2 separate regions of the Homo sapiens genome follow, and region 1 is linked to region 2. The links come from fine-mapping of genetic effects on plasma protein levels. Region 2 holds a variant in brackets. A gene starts in the other region. All regions are shown on their reverse strands.

Region 1 (8,000 bases), not on the chromosome of region 2:
TCGCACCATTGCACTCCAGCCTGGGCAAAAAGAGCGAAACTCCGTCTCAAAAAAAAAAAAAAGAAAAGAAAAATAATTAGCCTGGTGTGATGGCACACGCCTGTGGTCCCATCTACTTGAGAGGCTGAAGTAGGAGGATCACTTGAGTCTGCAGTGAGCCGTGATCACGCCACTACTGCACTCCAACCTGGGGGATAGAGTGAGTCCTTATCTCAAAAAACAGAAAACAAAAAAAAAACAAAAAAAAACTGCCTTTTGTTAAGCTTATTTTGTGTCTGTGACCATTTCCTATTAGATAGATATTTGAGGCCCAGAATATCTGCTGCCAGTTGAGGCCAGGTAAGAGTTACTGGCTGCTCTTGTTAAGCAAATATTTGAACTCAGTAGGCCTGAAGATGGGGTAACTGTTCGGATACTCTGCTTGAAATGCTGTCAGTGTGGTTAATGTTGATAATGGCCTCTGTTGGATGCCTGACACGCTGTATAAGGCACTTCGTGTAACTTAGTTTCATCCTCCCAACATTTTATATATCAGGAGACTGAGCCTTTCGTCACTGTCACTAATAAGTGGCAGTGGCTAGATTCGAACCAAGTTGGTTAAGCCTCTAAGCCCCACATCAAGCGCTCAGCCTTGTTCGCTCTGGAGTACCAGGATGCTTCCAGACTCCCTGGCCGTGCAGAGCAGCTTCCTAGCTGTTTTCCCAGTGCCAGTCCCATTCCTTGGGTCTTCCCCTTATAATACTGTTGAAATAGTAAGTTCAAAGTTTGTTTTAGTCACAACTAAGAAAGACTTTTGAATTGCACATTTTGGAGCAGGAAAGTCACATTGTTTCTGACTCAAAATGCCTGTTGCCTTTTCCAGGTCCCCATCTCAGCACCTGCCTCAGGCTGCAGTGCCACTAGTTTACACACGGGAAAACAGTTTCTAGAAACGATTTCTTTTTATTTTTATTTTGAGACGGCGGGGTCTCACTCTGTCACCCAGGCTGGAGTGCAGTGGCACAATATTGGTTCACTGCCACCTGTTCCTCTCAGGCTCAAGAGACCCTCCCACCTCAGCCTTTTGAAGTAGCTGGGACCACAGGTGTGTGCCACCAAACCCAGTTAATTTTTTGTGTTTTTGGTAAAGATGGGGTTTTACCATGTTGCCCAGACAGGTCTCAAACTCCTGAGCTCAGGCAATTCTCCTGCCTTGGCCTCCCAAAGTGCTGGAATTACAGGTATGAGTTACCATGCTCAGCCTCTAGAAATGATTTCTAATGTATGTAGCTGCAAATAGAACTGGGCCCAGTTTCTGAATGGCACTTTGAGTAACTTAGCTTCATCCTCCCAGCATTTTACATATCAGGAGACTGTGTATCAATAGCAACACACTTTTAAAAGTCAGGAACAAAGAAAGTAAGCAGCTGGTAGAAGGCTCCTTGCCCAACTACACTTCAAGTGTCCTCCTCTTATCACTTCTTGGCCTTTTGGCTAAGATCAAGAAGAAGAAGACCAGGCATAGGGGCTCACACCTGTAATCTTAGCATCTTGGGAGGCCAAGGCAGGAGGATCGCTTGAGCCCAGGAGTTCAAGACCAGCTGGAGCAACATAGCAAGACCTCATCTCTATTTTAAAAAAGAAAGCCAAAAGAAGAAGGAACAAAGGGGGAAAATGTTTTCTTCTCAGATAAAAATAAGGTTAAAGAACAAAACAAAAACCAACTTGAATAAATAAGCATTCAGGAAAACGTATCTGAGGCCAGATAGAGTGGCAGAGTAAAGACATGCATGTTTTATCCCGGTATTCAGAAGTTATATTTGGAAACTTCTTATACCCTGTTCCCACATTATCTGATAAAAAGCCAAAAATAGTTTTCGTCATTCCCTTACCAGAGGAAGGAGAAAATATCTCTGATATCTTTTATGGATTGAAATTAAAGATCTGAAGGTAAATCTTCCTGATGTTTTGCTATTTAGTATAACAAACATTGTAGAAGACGTTTAAAAACTATCACTAGGTTGTGATTAAATCCAGATTACTGTTTGAAGAGAAACAATATATTTTAAAGATAAATCATTCAAAAGTTTGTTTTGCTTTTTTTTTTTCCTGGGAACTTCATATTGTGCTTTCTTGCTAATTGCCAGAGCTGGGTTGGCCTTTTCAGTCACGCATCAGAGCATAACACTTGATAAACCGTCATCCCTCCTGGTGTATGGTCTCCAGGCCCAACAGAGCAGGCAGAATGGGAGAGAAGTAACTGCCTAAAGTTTGGAAAACTTTTTATTTTGAAGTAAGTTCAAACTTCCAAAAATGTTGAAAGAATAGTGTAGTAGAACAACTCCTGTATACCCGTACCGAGATTTACCAGGTTTAAAATTTTGGAACCTTTGCCCTGTCATTATCTGTGTGTGTGTGTACGTACGTGTGTGTTCTCACAGGCATGCACATACACATTTTTTCTTCTAGACCATTTGAGAGTAGGTCTCCTATATCTTGTTCCTCTAACATTTTTTCTTTTTTCTTCTTTTTTTTTTTTTTTTTGACGGAGTCTAACTCTGTTGTCCAGGCTGGAGTGCAGTGGCACGATCTCCGCTCACTGCAACCTCTGCCTCCCGGGTTTAAGCGATTCTCCTGCCTCAGCCTCCTGAGTAGCTGGGATTACAGGCGCGTGCCACCACGCCCAGCTAATTTTTGTATTTTTAGTAGAGACTTGGCTTCACCATGTTGGTCAGGCTGGTCTTGAACTCCTGACCTCGTGATCCACCCGCCTCGGCCTCCCAAAGTGTTGGGATTACAGGCGTGAGCCACTGCACCCGGCCCCTCTAACCTTTAATACTAATACTTCAGGGAAAATACCCAAGAGCAAGGATATTCTCATACATAATCACAGGACAGTTATCCAATTCGATTAATTTAATATAAGTACAATATTTTCATCTATTCCACAGCTCCTATTCTAAGTTTGTCAACTCTCCCAACAATGGAACTGACACAATTTTATAATAGGCACACTGAAAAATGAAACCATTTCCCACTTCTAAAACAGTGTAGAAAGCTTCTGAATTCTTAGTTTGCTAGAAAAATGAACCAGTTGCCTATCCGTAAACACCAAAAATAATTTATAATCAGCAGAAACATTAGAAACCCAACTTACCTCTGTGTTTCTGAGAAGTGGCGCTTCAGAGATGAAAGCAGCCAAGGTCATCAGTGGGATTTTGATGTGAACTTTGGTGCTGGGCTGTTGCTGCATATTTTCCAAAGTAAATAAGTCCCAATCCAAACACCAGGCAACCAGCTTGGTCAGCACAAACCCCCTCAGCTGTGCCTTTGATAACTGTAGAGTGGCTTGCAGCTCCTCATCTCCAGTTCTTAGAGCTGACACTTTGAGTATATGACGGTTACTGTGTTAGCATGCACACATAGCCTTGGTGCAGGAGCAGCCCCTCTTGAGGTCACCACATAAACAAGGCGCTCTTCAGGCCTCTGGGGACCAGGCTGCATTGAGGGTAGCTGAAAGTAGAGACCATGCATCTGCCTCCAACTGTGTCCTCTCTTCTGGGATGATCACAGCATCTGCCCTCCACCTGCTCTCCAGGACTGATGTGGCTGGCTCAGCTACTAGGCGGGTGTCCCTGTCCTTCCAAGAGCTCGTTCCTCAGTGAAAGGTGGAGGAGAGAGGACAAAATTAGTGGCTTACAGAATAAGGGGATTGTGGCATGGACCTTTCTTCAGTCAAGGGTTGCTGTGTTTGTTGCCAGTAGGTGCAGCCCAGCACTCCTGTCTGTTGTGGGACAGATAGGACTATTACTGAGCAGTGCCTCCCAAATTCAGGGCCACTTAGGCATTCGTGGGGATCTCTGAGGCTGTGATACATTTTGTGTTTATGGGTGTTTGTTTGTTTGTTTGTTTGTTTTGAGACAGAGTTTCGCGCTGCTGCCCATGCTGGAGTGCAGTGGTGCGATCTCAGCTCACTGCAACCTCTGTCTCCCAAGTTCAAGCGTTCTCCTGCCTCAGCCTCCTGAGTGGCTGAGATTACAGGCGCACACCACCATGTCCAACTAATTTTTTGTATTTTTAGTAGAGACGGGGTTTCACTATGTTGGCCAGGCTGGTGTTGAACTCCTGGAGTGAAGTGATCCTCCCGTCTCGGCCTCCCAAAGTGCTGGGATTACATGCGTGAGCCACCACGCCTGGCCCTATGTGTTTTTTGAGACAGGGTCTCACTCTGTTACCCAGGCTGGAGTGCAGTGGCGTGATCTTGGCTCACTGCAGCCTCAACCTCCCGAGCTGAAGCAATCCTCCTCACCTCAGCCCTGCAAGTAGCTGGGAATACAGGTGCACACCACCATGTCTAGCTAACTTTTGACTTTTTTGTAGAGACAGGGTCTCACTATGTTGCCTAGGCTGGTCTTGAACTCTTGGGCTCAAGTGATCCTCCTGCTTCAGCCTTGCAAAGTGCTGGGATTACAGGCATGAGTCACTGTGCCCGGCCTTATGATAATTTGTTTTTTAATTTGTGTTTTAAATTTTATGATCTAAAAAGTTTTAAGAATATTCTGGATTGTCTGGAAGATCAGCTTATCACAGAGACTGCTCCTCAAGAGCATGTTTGGGAGTGTCGGCACCCAGAGTCTATCTGAAGAGAGAATGTGACTCCTAGGAGAATCTGCGGGTGTGCAAGGGGCCCATGGGGGTGTCTGTGCATTGCTCCGTTTGAGAAATTCCAGAGTGTAAAGGTCCATTGTGTTCAGGACACAGACCGGTGGTTGTGTCTGAGTCTGATTTTGCACTCTAGCTTTTGTCAGAGCTGTCTTCTTAGAGCCTTCATCTGTCACATACAATACTGAGTCTTCAGCGTGGCACCACAGGCAGAGGCTGCTGTCTGTGCCCACACTCCTCGTGGGCCCACCTCCCTCATTCTCTGTCTTGTTCTCACACATGCAAAGCCCGGCCCCAGCACAGCCCTGGCACTTGCTATTCTTTCTGCCCAGGACACCATCCCTGCAGACCAGCAGGTGGCCGCTGCTCTCACTGTTCGCTCTTGGTTTCACCGAGGCGTCACCAGCCACCCTGGCTGAAATTGCCCCTTGGCCTCCAGCTCTCAGTATTCTGCTCTCTGAAATGAGGGTGACAGTTACACCTACTGCATGAGGTTGTTGTGAAAATTAAATGAGATACATTAATTTATCTCATTAATTAAATGAGAAAATTAAATGAGGTTAATGAATGTGTGGAAAGCACATAGAGTGGTGCCTGGCATTCAGAAAATGTTAGTCCTCATCATTTCATGGTATTACATATTTATTCACAGAAATGGTCTGGGAGGGGACACAGCATTCATTTTTCATTCTATGTACTTCTTTGTTTGACCTTTTTCTATGTGTATGTATTACTTTTGTTATTTTTAAAGCCAGTACCGGCCAGGTGTGGTGGCTCACACCTGTAATCCCAGCACTTTGAGAGGCCAAGGCGGGTGGATCACTTGAGGTCAGGAGTTCAAGACCAGCCTGACCAACATGGTAAAACCCCGTCCCTACTAAAAATACAAAAATTAGCTGGGTGTGGTGGCACACATCTGTAGTCCCAGCTACTCGGGAGGCTGAGGCAGGACAATCGCTTGAACCTGGGAGGTGAAGGTTGCAGTGAGCCGAGTTCATGCCACTGTACTCCAGCCTGGGTGACAGAGTGAGACTCTGTCTAAATAAATAAATAAATAAATAAATAAATAAATAAAGCCAACATATTTCCTGTCTATTTGGATTTCTGATCATGTAACCCACTATTGGAAAAATTTGATTTCAGTCCCTCTTGACATTGACATTTTTCAGTCATTTTCCCATTTAGTGGTAACAGCTTGTGTATGGCTTTTTTTTTTTTGAGACAGAGTCTCGCTCTGTCGCCCAGGCTGGAGTGCAGTGGCGCAATCTCAGCTCACTGCAAGCTCCGCCTCCTGGGTTCACGCCATTCTCCTGCCTCAGCCTCCCTAGTAGCTGGGACTACAGGTGCCCACCACCACGTCTGGCTAATGTTTTGTATTTTTAGTAGAGACGGGTTTCACCATGCTGGCCAGGCTGGTCTTGAACTCCTAACCTCATGATCCGCCCGCATCGGCCTCCCAAAGTGCTGGGATTACAGGCGTGAGCCACCACAGCTTGTGTATGGCTTTAACCCCACTGTAGAGCAGTACCTCCTGTCACACATACTCCATTGTTCTTTTGCAGTTTCAAGGTTTGTCTTATGGCTAGATATTTTTTCCAACTTGGAAAAAAATTTTTTTAGTTAGAAAAAAGCGGGGTCTCACTATGTTGGCCAAGTTGGTCTTGAACGTCTGGCTTCAAGCAGTCTTCCCACCTTGGCCTCCCAAAGAGCTGGGAAGACAGGCGTGAACTACCTCATCCAGACTTTTCCATCTTTTAACATGAAATTCTAAAAATATACAGAGGGGTCAGGCACGGTGGCTCATGCCTATCATCCCAGCACTTTGGGAGGCTGAGGCAGGAGGATCACTAAAGTTTGGAAAACTTTTTCTTTTGAAATAACTTCAAACTTTCAAAAAAGTTGAAAGAATAGTGTAGTAGAACAACTCCTGTATACCCGTACCCAGATTTACCAGGTTTAAAATTTTGGAACCTTTGCCCTGTCACTGTGTGTGTCTCTGTGTCCAGCTTGTGTGTGTGTGTGTGTGTGTGTGTGTGTGTGTGTGTGTGTGTGTGTGTGTGTCCGTGTCCAGCTTGGGCAACATAGCAAAACCGATCTCTCTCTCTCTCTTTTTTTTTTTTTTTTTTTGAGACGGAGTTTTTGCTCTGTTGCCCAGGCTGGAGTGCAGTGGCTCAATCTTAGCTTGCTGCAACCTCTGCCTCCTGGGTTCAAGCGATTCTCCTGCCTCAGCCTCCCAAGTAGCTGGGATTACAGGCGCCTGCCATCATGCCTGGCTAATTTTTGTGTTTTTAGTAGAGACAGGGTTTTACCATGTTGCCCAGGCTGGTCTTGAACTCCTGACCTCAGATGATCTGCCCGCCTCAGCCTCCCAAAGTGCTAGGATTACAGGCATGAGCCACTGCTCCCGGCTAGCAAAACCCATCTCTACCAAAAAAAAAAAAACTGGGCCATGATGCTGCACACCTGTAGTCCCATCTGCTCAGGAGGCTGAGGCAGAAGGATCACTTGAGTATGTACAGTGAGCTATGATTGTACCCCCTACTCCAGTGTGGTCGACAGAGTGAGACCCTGTCTCTAAAAAAAATATGTATACATACACAGAGAAATTGGAATAATTGAATACTAAATATCCATACACCCACAACCTAGGTAGAATAGTTAATATTTTTCCATATCCACTTAAAGACATCACTCACTTCTGCCCTGGGCACTAGCACCAGTGTTTCTTCCATGGACGGGTCTCTGCCCTGTGCTGTGCTACCATCACTCCTGGGAAGATCACAAGCCTCACATATATCACATGTCTAGTCCAAGTCAGATTACTCTATGACTTCAAACATGTATTTTATGGGTTTTTAATTTTTATCTGGTCAGGGTTTCATGTGTCGCATTTGACTGTTATATCTCTTTAGAATCCTTTATCTATTTCAGTCTTCCCACTTCCCCCCTGACCTTGATTTTTTTTTTTTTTTGAAATGGCGTCTCGCTCTGTCGCCCAGGCTGCAGTGCAGTGGCGCAATCTTGGCTCACTGCAACCTCGGCCTCCTGGTTTCAAGCGATTCTCCTGCTTCAGCCTCCCGAGTACCTGGGACTACAGGTGTGTGCCACCACGCCTGGCTAATTTTTTGTATTTTTAGTAGAGATGGGGTTTTACCGTGTTAGCCAGGCTGATCTCGATCTCCTGACCTCCTGATCTGCCTGTCTTGGCCTCCCAAAGTGCTGGGATTACAGGCGTGAGCCACCACACCTGGCCTGACCTTGATACTTCTTAGGAGTGAGCAGATCTCCTTTCTGGAGACTAGAGCAGTCTCAGCCAAGACAGTGGCCAGCAGGCTCGGAGAAGTCAGAGAGCAGGGAGA
Region 2 (8,524 bases):
TCCAAAGCTGCTCCCACATTTTTAGGTATTTGTTACAGCAGCACCCCACTTCTCCTACCAATTTCTGTTCAGTCCATTTGGGCTGCTATAACAAAATACCATAGACTGAATAATTTGTAAATGATAGAAATTTATTTCTCATTAATTCTGGAGACCAGGAAGTCCAAGATCAAGATGCTAGCAGATTTGGTGTCTGATGAAGGCCTGTTCCTCATAGATGATGCCTTCTAAGTGTCCTCACATGGTAAAAGGAGCAAGGAAGCTCCCTTCAACCTCTTTTATAAGAGCACGAATTCCATTCATGAAGGCAGAGCCCTTATGACCTCATCACTTTCCCCGAGGCTCTGTCTCTTGATACTGTCACATTGGGTATTGGGTTCCAACATATGAATTTTGGGGAACACCGATGTTCAGACCATAGCATACCCTTTCCAAGTCAGGTGGCCCTCTTTTGGGTGGCAGGCAATTCCCCAGAGAAGGAACAGCTGTGACTTGCTGTCAGTCAGTGTCATCGTGGCTGGGGGATGGGTATATCAGCAGGAAAAGGGGATCCAGAGCCCCCCTCAACAAACAATCATTGCAATGATTTTCTTGTGAATTGTTCTAGGGTTTGATTCACATAAATATAAGCAGATCAAATCTATATACCCTTCTTTCCGATTCACACGAAAGGTAGCATAGTGTTCTCTGTTCTGTGACTTGCTTTTTTCATGTAATTATCTTGAAGATCTTTTCATATTGGTAAATAAAAAAGGTCCTCATTCTTTTTTTCAAGCTGCATAGTGCCCTGCTGTATGACTGTATCATAACTGATTTAATTAGTGCTCTCTTGATAGACATTTGGATTATTTCTAATCTTTTGCTACTATAAAGCTGTATGATTATTTCTAATCTTTTGCTACTATAAAGCTGTATGAATGACCTTGTGTGTTATTTTGCATTCTCACATGTACATCTGTGGGGTATATCTCCAAAAGTTTAATGTCTAAAAAGTGACCTAGCCATCCAAAGGTGGGAGAATCACTTGAACCTGGGAGGCAGAGGTTGCAGTGAGCTGAGATCACGCCATTTCCCTCCAGACTGGGAGACACAGCAAAACTCTGTCTCAAAAACAAAAAAAAGAGCCTGGTATATTGTATCTGTAGCCTCAATGGTGATCATGGCAGGGCTTGGAATGGGGTGAGTCTTTAATGAAGTGGTGAAGGAACCAGTCTAAAAAGTGACCTAGACATTAATCTTTTTTTTTTTTTTTTTTTTTTTCTGAGACTGAGTCTCACTCTGTCGCCCAGGTTGGAGTGCAGTGCCATGATCAGTGCCATGATCTCGGCTCACTGCAACCTCCACCTCCTGGGTTCAAGTGATTCTCCTGCCTCAGCCTCCCAAGTAGCTGGGACTACAGGCACCCACCACCATACCTGGCTAATTTTTGTATTTTTAGTAGAGACAGGGTTTTGCCATGTTGGCCAGGCTGGTCTTGAACTCCTGACCTCAAGTTATCCACCCACCTCAGCCTCCCAAGACATTAAACTTTTGACAGATTGCCAAATGTCCTTCATAGGAATTATATAGGTTTGTATTCCCATTAGTTATACATGAGAGCGTTTATTTCCCCACAAGTTCATCAACAGCATGTATTACCAAACTTTTGGTTTTTCTCCTAAACTAAATGTCCTTTAAAATCTAGGCAGAGGTAGCCATGTCCCCATAGCTCTTGCACTCTGTACATCGGTGGAAATGTGATTAAAATCACCTTCCCAGTGATTTTAAGAACTATTTTTTTCTGATTATAAAAATAATACACAGGCTAGGCATGGTGGCTCACACTTGTAATCCCAGCACTTTGGGAGGCTGAGGCGGGAGGATTGCTTGAGCCAAGGAGTTCAAAACCAGCCTGGGCAGCATAGGGAGACCCCTGTCTCTACAAAAAATACAAAAATTAGCTGGGTGTGGTGGTGCACACCTCTAGTCCCAGATACTTGGGAGGTTGAGGTGAGAGGATCGCTTGGGCCCAGGAGGTCAAGGCTATAGTGAGCTGTGATGGCACCCCTGCACTCCAGCCTGGGCAATGGAGTGAGACCCTGTCTCAAAATAATGATAATAACAATAATAATACATGTCCACTTGTAGAACATTTGAAAAGTACAGTCTTTAAGCTTGTTATGTTTTGCCTATGTTTAAATATTTGAGAAAAAATTTTATCCACTTAGTCTAAGGATATTTTTCTCTTAATTGCCTAAAAGTCTGCTCACAAGCAGTCAAAATACTTTAAAGAAATCACAACTTTATTATTATTATTTTTTGAGAGGGAGTCTTCGCTCTTGTTGCCCAGGCTGGAGTGCAGTGGTGCGATCTCGGCTCATTGCAACCTCCACCTCCTGGATTCAAGTGATTCTCCTGCCTCAGCCTCCCGAGTAGCTGGGACTACAGGCATGTGCCACCACGCCTGGCTAATTTTTGTATTTTTAGTAGAGGCGGGGTTTCACTATGTTGGCCAGGCTGGTTTCGAACTCCTGACCTCAGGTGACCTGCCTGCCTTGGCCTCTCAAAGCGTTGGGATTACAGGCGTGAGCCACTATACTGGGCCTCTATGTTTATTTTTTAATGTGTCTGTTATTTGACTGTACCTTGTAGAGTAGGCTGCATGAAAGCGGGGACATATCCTGCTCCCTGATAAATCCCCAGGGCCTCGAACTCCAATGGCACGGAAGACACTTGTTCAATGAATAAGTGACTCTTGAATGAATGGAGGGGAGCCACCCGGGGCCATGTCTCCAGGAAGCCGGCTCAAATTCCTCCAGCTAAAAGTGGTCTTTGGCTCTCTTTAACATCCTGACACTTTGTTTATAGGGTTTTTGTGCTTTGCCCTGTAGCTTTTTTTCTCTCTTTTTTTTTTCTTTGAGATGAAGTCTTGCTCTGTTGCCAGGCTGGAGTGCAGTGGCACGATCTTGGCTCACTGCAACCTCCTTCTCCCTGGTTCAAGTGATTCTCCTGCCTCAGCTTCCTGAGTAGCTGGGACTACAGGCGCACGCCACTACGCCCAGCTAATTTTTGTATTTTTAGTAGAGACAGGGTTTTACCATGTTGGCCAGCATGGTCTCGATCTCTTGACCTCGTGGTCTGCCTGCCTCAGCCTCCCAAAAAGTGCTGGGATTACAGGCATGAGCCACCATGCCCAGGCTTTTTTTCTCCTTTTACTGACACCAGCACTGTGAACCCCAAGCCAACATCTCCAAATCACCTGTAAATGCTCCCCTGTCCCCAAATGCACTCAACCAGGATTTGCTGAATAGATATGGGGATAGATAAATATCAGCTGTGGGCTCTTTAAGAGGGTTTGTTGAAACAGGTGGGACCTGAGGATATCTTCCTGGGAGCCTGAGAAATTTACACACTTAAAAGTCTTTTACAGGTCCAGGCTACATCTTAAATTCTCTACAAACCCTCTGTGGCAGATTGTACTTTCTGAGAAAGGCCACGCCAGCTGGGCG[C/T]GGTGGCTCACTCCTGTAATCCCAGCACTTTGGCAGGCCGAGGCGGGCAGATCACCTGAGGTCAGGAGTTGGAGACCAGGCTGACCAACATGGAGAAATCCCGTCTCTACTAAAAATGCAAAATTAGCTGGGCATGGTGACACATGCCTGTAATCCCAGCTACCTGGGAGGCTGAGGCAGGAGAATCTGCTTGAACCCGGGAGGCGGAGGTTGCAGTGAGCCGAGATCGTGCCATTGCACTCCAGCCTGGGCAACAAGAGCGAAACTCCATCTCAAAAAAAAAAAAAAAAAGGCCACACCAATATTTCCAGTTTCACATGCTTTTCCAGAACCTTGCTACTGCCCCATCTAGAGGGGAAGTCAGTGTCCCCACCCTGTGAGCCTGCGCAGGCCCTTGTGACTGCCTGGACAAATAGAATCAAAACCGGCTACATCATTTGTGGGTCCCAGTCAAATGAAAATACGGGGCCCTTGTACAAACATTTATTTAGTTATTTGTTTTGAGACAGGGTCTTGCTATGTTGCTCAGGCTGGAGTGCAGTGGTGTGATCACAGCTCACTGTAGCCTCAAACTCCTGGGCTCAAGTGATCCTCCCACTTCAGCCTTCTGAGTAGCTGCGATTACAGGTGTGCATAATCATCATAGCTGGCTAATTTTTTTTTCAGTTTCTTTTGTGGAGATGAGATCTTGCCATGTTTCCCAGACTGATCTTGAACTCCTGGCCTCAAGCGATCCTCCTGCCTCAGCCTCCCAAAGTGCTGGGATTACAGGTGTGAGTCACTGTGCCTGGCCATCAAATATTATTACGAATTTCCAGGGGGTGAGAGCAGAGCATTAAACCAAGCATGGGGCTCTGTGTGACCACACAGGTCACACGCCCATTAAGCTGGTCCTGAATAGAATGCAGTGGAAGTGATGCTGAGTGATTTTTTGGGCTCATCAACAAAGGTGATACAGCTTCTACCTGGCTCTCTCTGAGGCTGCTCTACCTTGGAACCCAGTCACAATAATGTAAGGAATCCCAGGTGACATAAAAAGGCCATGTATAGGTGTTTCGTTGTCTCTAGCTAAGATCTTAGTCTACAGCCAGCATCAGTCTCGAGACATTAGTGAATGAGCTCTCGAAGCTTCCAGCCCCAGCCATCAGGTGACCCCCAGCCTTTGGGTCTCTCTGCTCAGACCCTAGACATTGTGGCACAGAGACAAGCCCTTCCTACTGTGCCCTTTCCAAATTCCCGACCCACAGAATCCATGAGCATAATAAATGGTTGTCTTATACCTCTAAGTTTGGGAGTGATTTGATACTCAGCAAAAGATAACCAGAATATTTCCCACGACTTCAGCTCATACTGGCCTGTCCTTTTTTGAATTGTTGCAATTTTGGCTCAAAACATGCATTTCATCTGCTGTTCTCAAAATTTGAAAGTATACATTTAATTGGCCGGGTGTGGTGGCTCAAGCCTGTAATCCCAGCACTTTGGGAGACTGAGGTGGGTGGATCATTTGAAGTCAGGAGTTTAAGACCAGCCTGGCCAACATAGTGAAACCCCATCTCTACTAAAAAAAAAAAAAGAAAAAAAAATGCAAAAATTAGCCGGGTATGGTGGCCCACGACTTTAGTCCCCAGCTACTCAGAAGGCTGAGGCAGAAGAATCACTTGAACCCAGGAGACAGAGGTTGCAGTGAGCTGAGATGGCACCACTGCACTCCAGCCTGGGTGACAGAGCGAGACTCTGCCTCAAAAAAAAAAAAAAAAAAAATTCAGTACAATAACATGCTATACAGATTTGCAGTCTAGGAGCAATAGGCCATACCATATAGCCTAGGTGCGTTTAGTAGGCTATACCAAGTAGGTACACTCTGTGTATAAATACACTCTATGATGTTCACACGATGACAAAATCACCAAATGATGCATTTCTCAGAACATACCCCTGACATTAAGCAACGCATGACTGTATTTGTGTAGTGTCTGCACCTCTCTCTGGACTGTCAGCTCCCATAGACTATGCCTTTGCCATTATGCCTGGCACCTGGTAGATGCTCAATAAATAATCATTGGGTAAATAACAAGATCTTGCTCTGTCACCAAGGCTGGTGTGTAGTGGCACAATCATGGCTCACTGTAGCCTTGGCCTCCTGGGCCCAAGCGATTCTCCCGCCTCAGCCTCCTGAGTAGCTGGGACTACAGGCATATGCCACCATGTCTGGCTAAGTTTTTTCTTTTCTTTTCTTTTCTTTTCTTTTTTTTTTGTAGAGAGAGATAGGGTCTTGCTATGTTGCCCAGGCTGGTCTGAAACTCCTGGGCTCAAGCGTTACTCCTGCTTCAGCCTCCCAAACTGCTGAGATTATAGGAGTGAACCACCATGCTTGGAAACATTAGTTCTTACAAATTAATTCTATGTACTCAAGGAGATGACAGGGATCTTTTATTTTCTGTTGCAACTTATAACATCATTAGGTACAGTAAAAGTAAAACAATCCACTGGGTGTGGTGGTGCATGCCTGTAATCCCACCTACTTGGGAGGCTGGGGCAGGAGAATCTCTTGAACCAGGTAGGTGGAGGTTGCAGTGAGCCGAGATCATGCCACTGCACTCCAGCCTGAGCAACAGAGTGAGACTCTGTCTCTAATATGTGTAATTTTTGATAAATTAATCAACCACACAAGTAAGGACGGAGTAAGTAAGGTAGTTGAGAGTTAAAGCCTAGTGAACATCTGATGAGTTTATTTTATTTGTGGAAGAGAAGTTTAGGAACCAATCTTCTGACCTCTCTTTTGCCTTAATTAAAAATATAACACCTTTTGGTTATTCTGCTGTTCTTCCAGGAATCTTCGGACAGACATTATGCATACAGTGGAAAGTTACAAAAAGGGAGTTATTTTCTGAGAAAATCCCCCGAGTAAACTTTAACCAAAGCAAAGAGTGTAAGTGGCAGATGACCAAAGAGTAGAGAATAGGAAAGTACTTGTCACTGGTATATTAAAAATAATTTTCCAAAAAAGAAACTCTCGCCCGGATGTGGTGGCTCAAGCCTGTAATCCCAGCACTTTGAGAGGCCGAGACAGGCAGATTGCTTGAGGTCAGGAGTTCGAGACCAGCCTGGCCAACGTTGTGAAACCCTGTCTCTACTAAAAATACAAAAATTAGCCGGGTTTGGTGGCGTGCGCCTGTAATCCCAGCTACTCAGGAGGCTGAGGTAGGAGAATCACTTGAACCCGGGAGGCGGAGGTTGCAGTGAGCCGAGATCGGGCCACTGCACCGCAGCCTGGGAGAGAGAGCGAGACTCCCATCTCAAAAAAAAAAAAAAAAAAGAAAAAAAGAAAGAAACTCTCACATAGATATAAAATGAACATGTTCAAGATTTTCTTTAACTCAATGATCATTGAAGAAATCAAGCAGATATTACAATAGGTTCAAAAAATAGACCCATTTGTAGACCAGGAATAATGAAATAAATGTGCAAATGGAGGCAAACGGATTTTTTTTTTTACAGAGGGTAAGCAAAATCAATTGACTTTCTACTAGACAGAACATAATTTGCATGTTTATAAACAATAATTTTTTTTTTGCATTGCCAGCAATTAGCTATTTTGTAAAATAGCTCAAAGTCAATGAAAGACTAGAGTCAGATACCCTGGAGGAGTATTCTCTAGACAATGAAGTTTTTCACTGAAGTTCAAGTGGAAAGGCATTGGTTTTCCTCCAGCTGGAAAGGTGAGATATTAAACGGTCTGGGAGCTTTGGGGTTTGGGAAAATCTGGGTTTGAGGCTAGTCCGGAGAAGAAGTAGCGCCTCCCGGTGATTCTGATTCAGCAGGCTGGGAACAGAGCCCGGGCATCTGTGTTTTCGAATAGCTCCATCAGGCACCCTAATTAAGAACCGGTGTGTTAATTTAGCACTCAATATTCCATCCTAAAGGAGAATCTAATGTAAGAATAATCCAAATATTTACCTAAGTTTTTCTTTAAACAAATAAACATTTCTATTGATTTTGGGTACAGGCAATGGCATTTGGGGACAGAGCTGACTTTTCCCATTTGGTTTCTTTGAATGGTTTCTTTCAGCCTTCACTTATGAGGGAGGCAGTCCTTAGGTATGTGGATCAAGGGGGAAATCCTTGCACATTCCCCGCGAGATCTTTTGATTCTCTTCCCCACTCAGCACATCCTGTGCTTGCTGTCAGACCCTAGACTCAAGCTCTGGTGGCAGAGGGGACTTCTGGCTGGGTTAGTTCCTACGCAGGCGCTCTAGGTGGGAAAGGGAGCCTGCAGGGGGCCCAGAGCTGGCCAGCAGGGGGCAGCACAGGCTCAGGCTGGGAGGCGCGGGAGCCCATAGGATGCCGTCTTCCTCAGTTTCGAGAATCCCCTCCCCCGACTCAGCCTGGGTGACCAGAGTTCTCTCATCCAGCTGTGAAACAACGCCTGGAGTTCACTATTTAGGTTCACTAAATAGGTTCACTATTTCCTGAACTTCGCCTAATACACAGGTGAGACTGAGCTTGGGAAATCACTCACCCTCCCTCTGCCCAAAATGCAACCCTCTCGCTTGCAAAATGGGGATAATTGTACCTACTTCATAGGCTTAAATAAGTAATATGCATAACACACTGGAGCAGTGCCTAACATATATTTAAACTACACATGTATTAGCTATTCTTTTATTTTATTTAAAATTTTTTTTAGAGACAGGGGTCTTACTATATTGCCCAGGCTGGTCTTGAACTCCTGGGTTCAAGCCATCCTCCTGCCTCAGCCTCCAAAGTCCTGGGATGACAGGTGTGAGCCCCCGCGCCTGGCCTGTATTAGCTATTGTTATTGCATTGCTACCGCTTATCAGGCACTGTGGATGCCACTGTGATGCAAGGAAGAGAAATAAGATAGCCGTGCTGGCTGAGAGCTCACAGCCTCATGAGAGAGGCAGCTAAGTAAATTCTTTGTGACACTGGGAAGAAAAAGATGAGCATGAGATGTGGGCAGGGTATGGAGGCAGAAGTAACCAAAAGTCTTTGGGAGGCTGAGGCAGGCAGATCAT

Alleles and levels. Positions count from the first base shown, and alleles are read on the strand shown. Strength reflects both the effect of a copy and how common the allele is.
In carriers of allele T in region 2, the plasma level of the protein whose gene starts at base 3,169 in region 1 tends to be higher than with C alone (moderate association).

Evidence for each region. PIP is the chance, under the fine-mapping model, that this variant and not a neighbour inherited with it causes the effect. The UK Biobank Pharma Proteomics Project read protein levels with antibody pairs (Olink). The fine-mapping took linkage between variants from a reference panel, not from the people measured, so its PIPs are less certain.
Region 1: it holds the start of SERPIND1, and the variant in region 2 is fine-mapped to the plasma level of the SERPIND1 protein (UK Biobank, PIP 0.94).

What each region holds. Positions count from the first base shown.
Region 1 is chr22:20,769,282-20,777,281 of GRCh38, reverse strand. SERPIND1 (serpin family D member 1) reads right to left here and starts at 3,169. Exons shown (of 5, transcript NM_000185.4): 1 at 3,137-3,169. The region is part of intron 19 of PI4KA (phosphatidylinositol 4-kinase alpha); the gene reads left to right.
Region 2 is chr16:71,610,457-71,618,980 of GRCh38, reverse strand. It overlaps LOC105371334 (a long non-coding RNA gene), which reads left to right. Exons shown (of 3, transcript XR_933717.2): 2 at 7,072-7,207. Among named protein-coding and RNA genes, the nearest start is that of MARVELD3, 11 kb to the left of the region's middle. The variant C/T (reference allele first, on the strand shown) is at 3,489.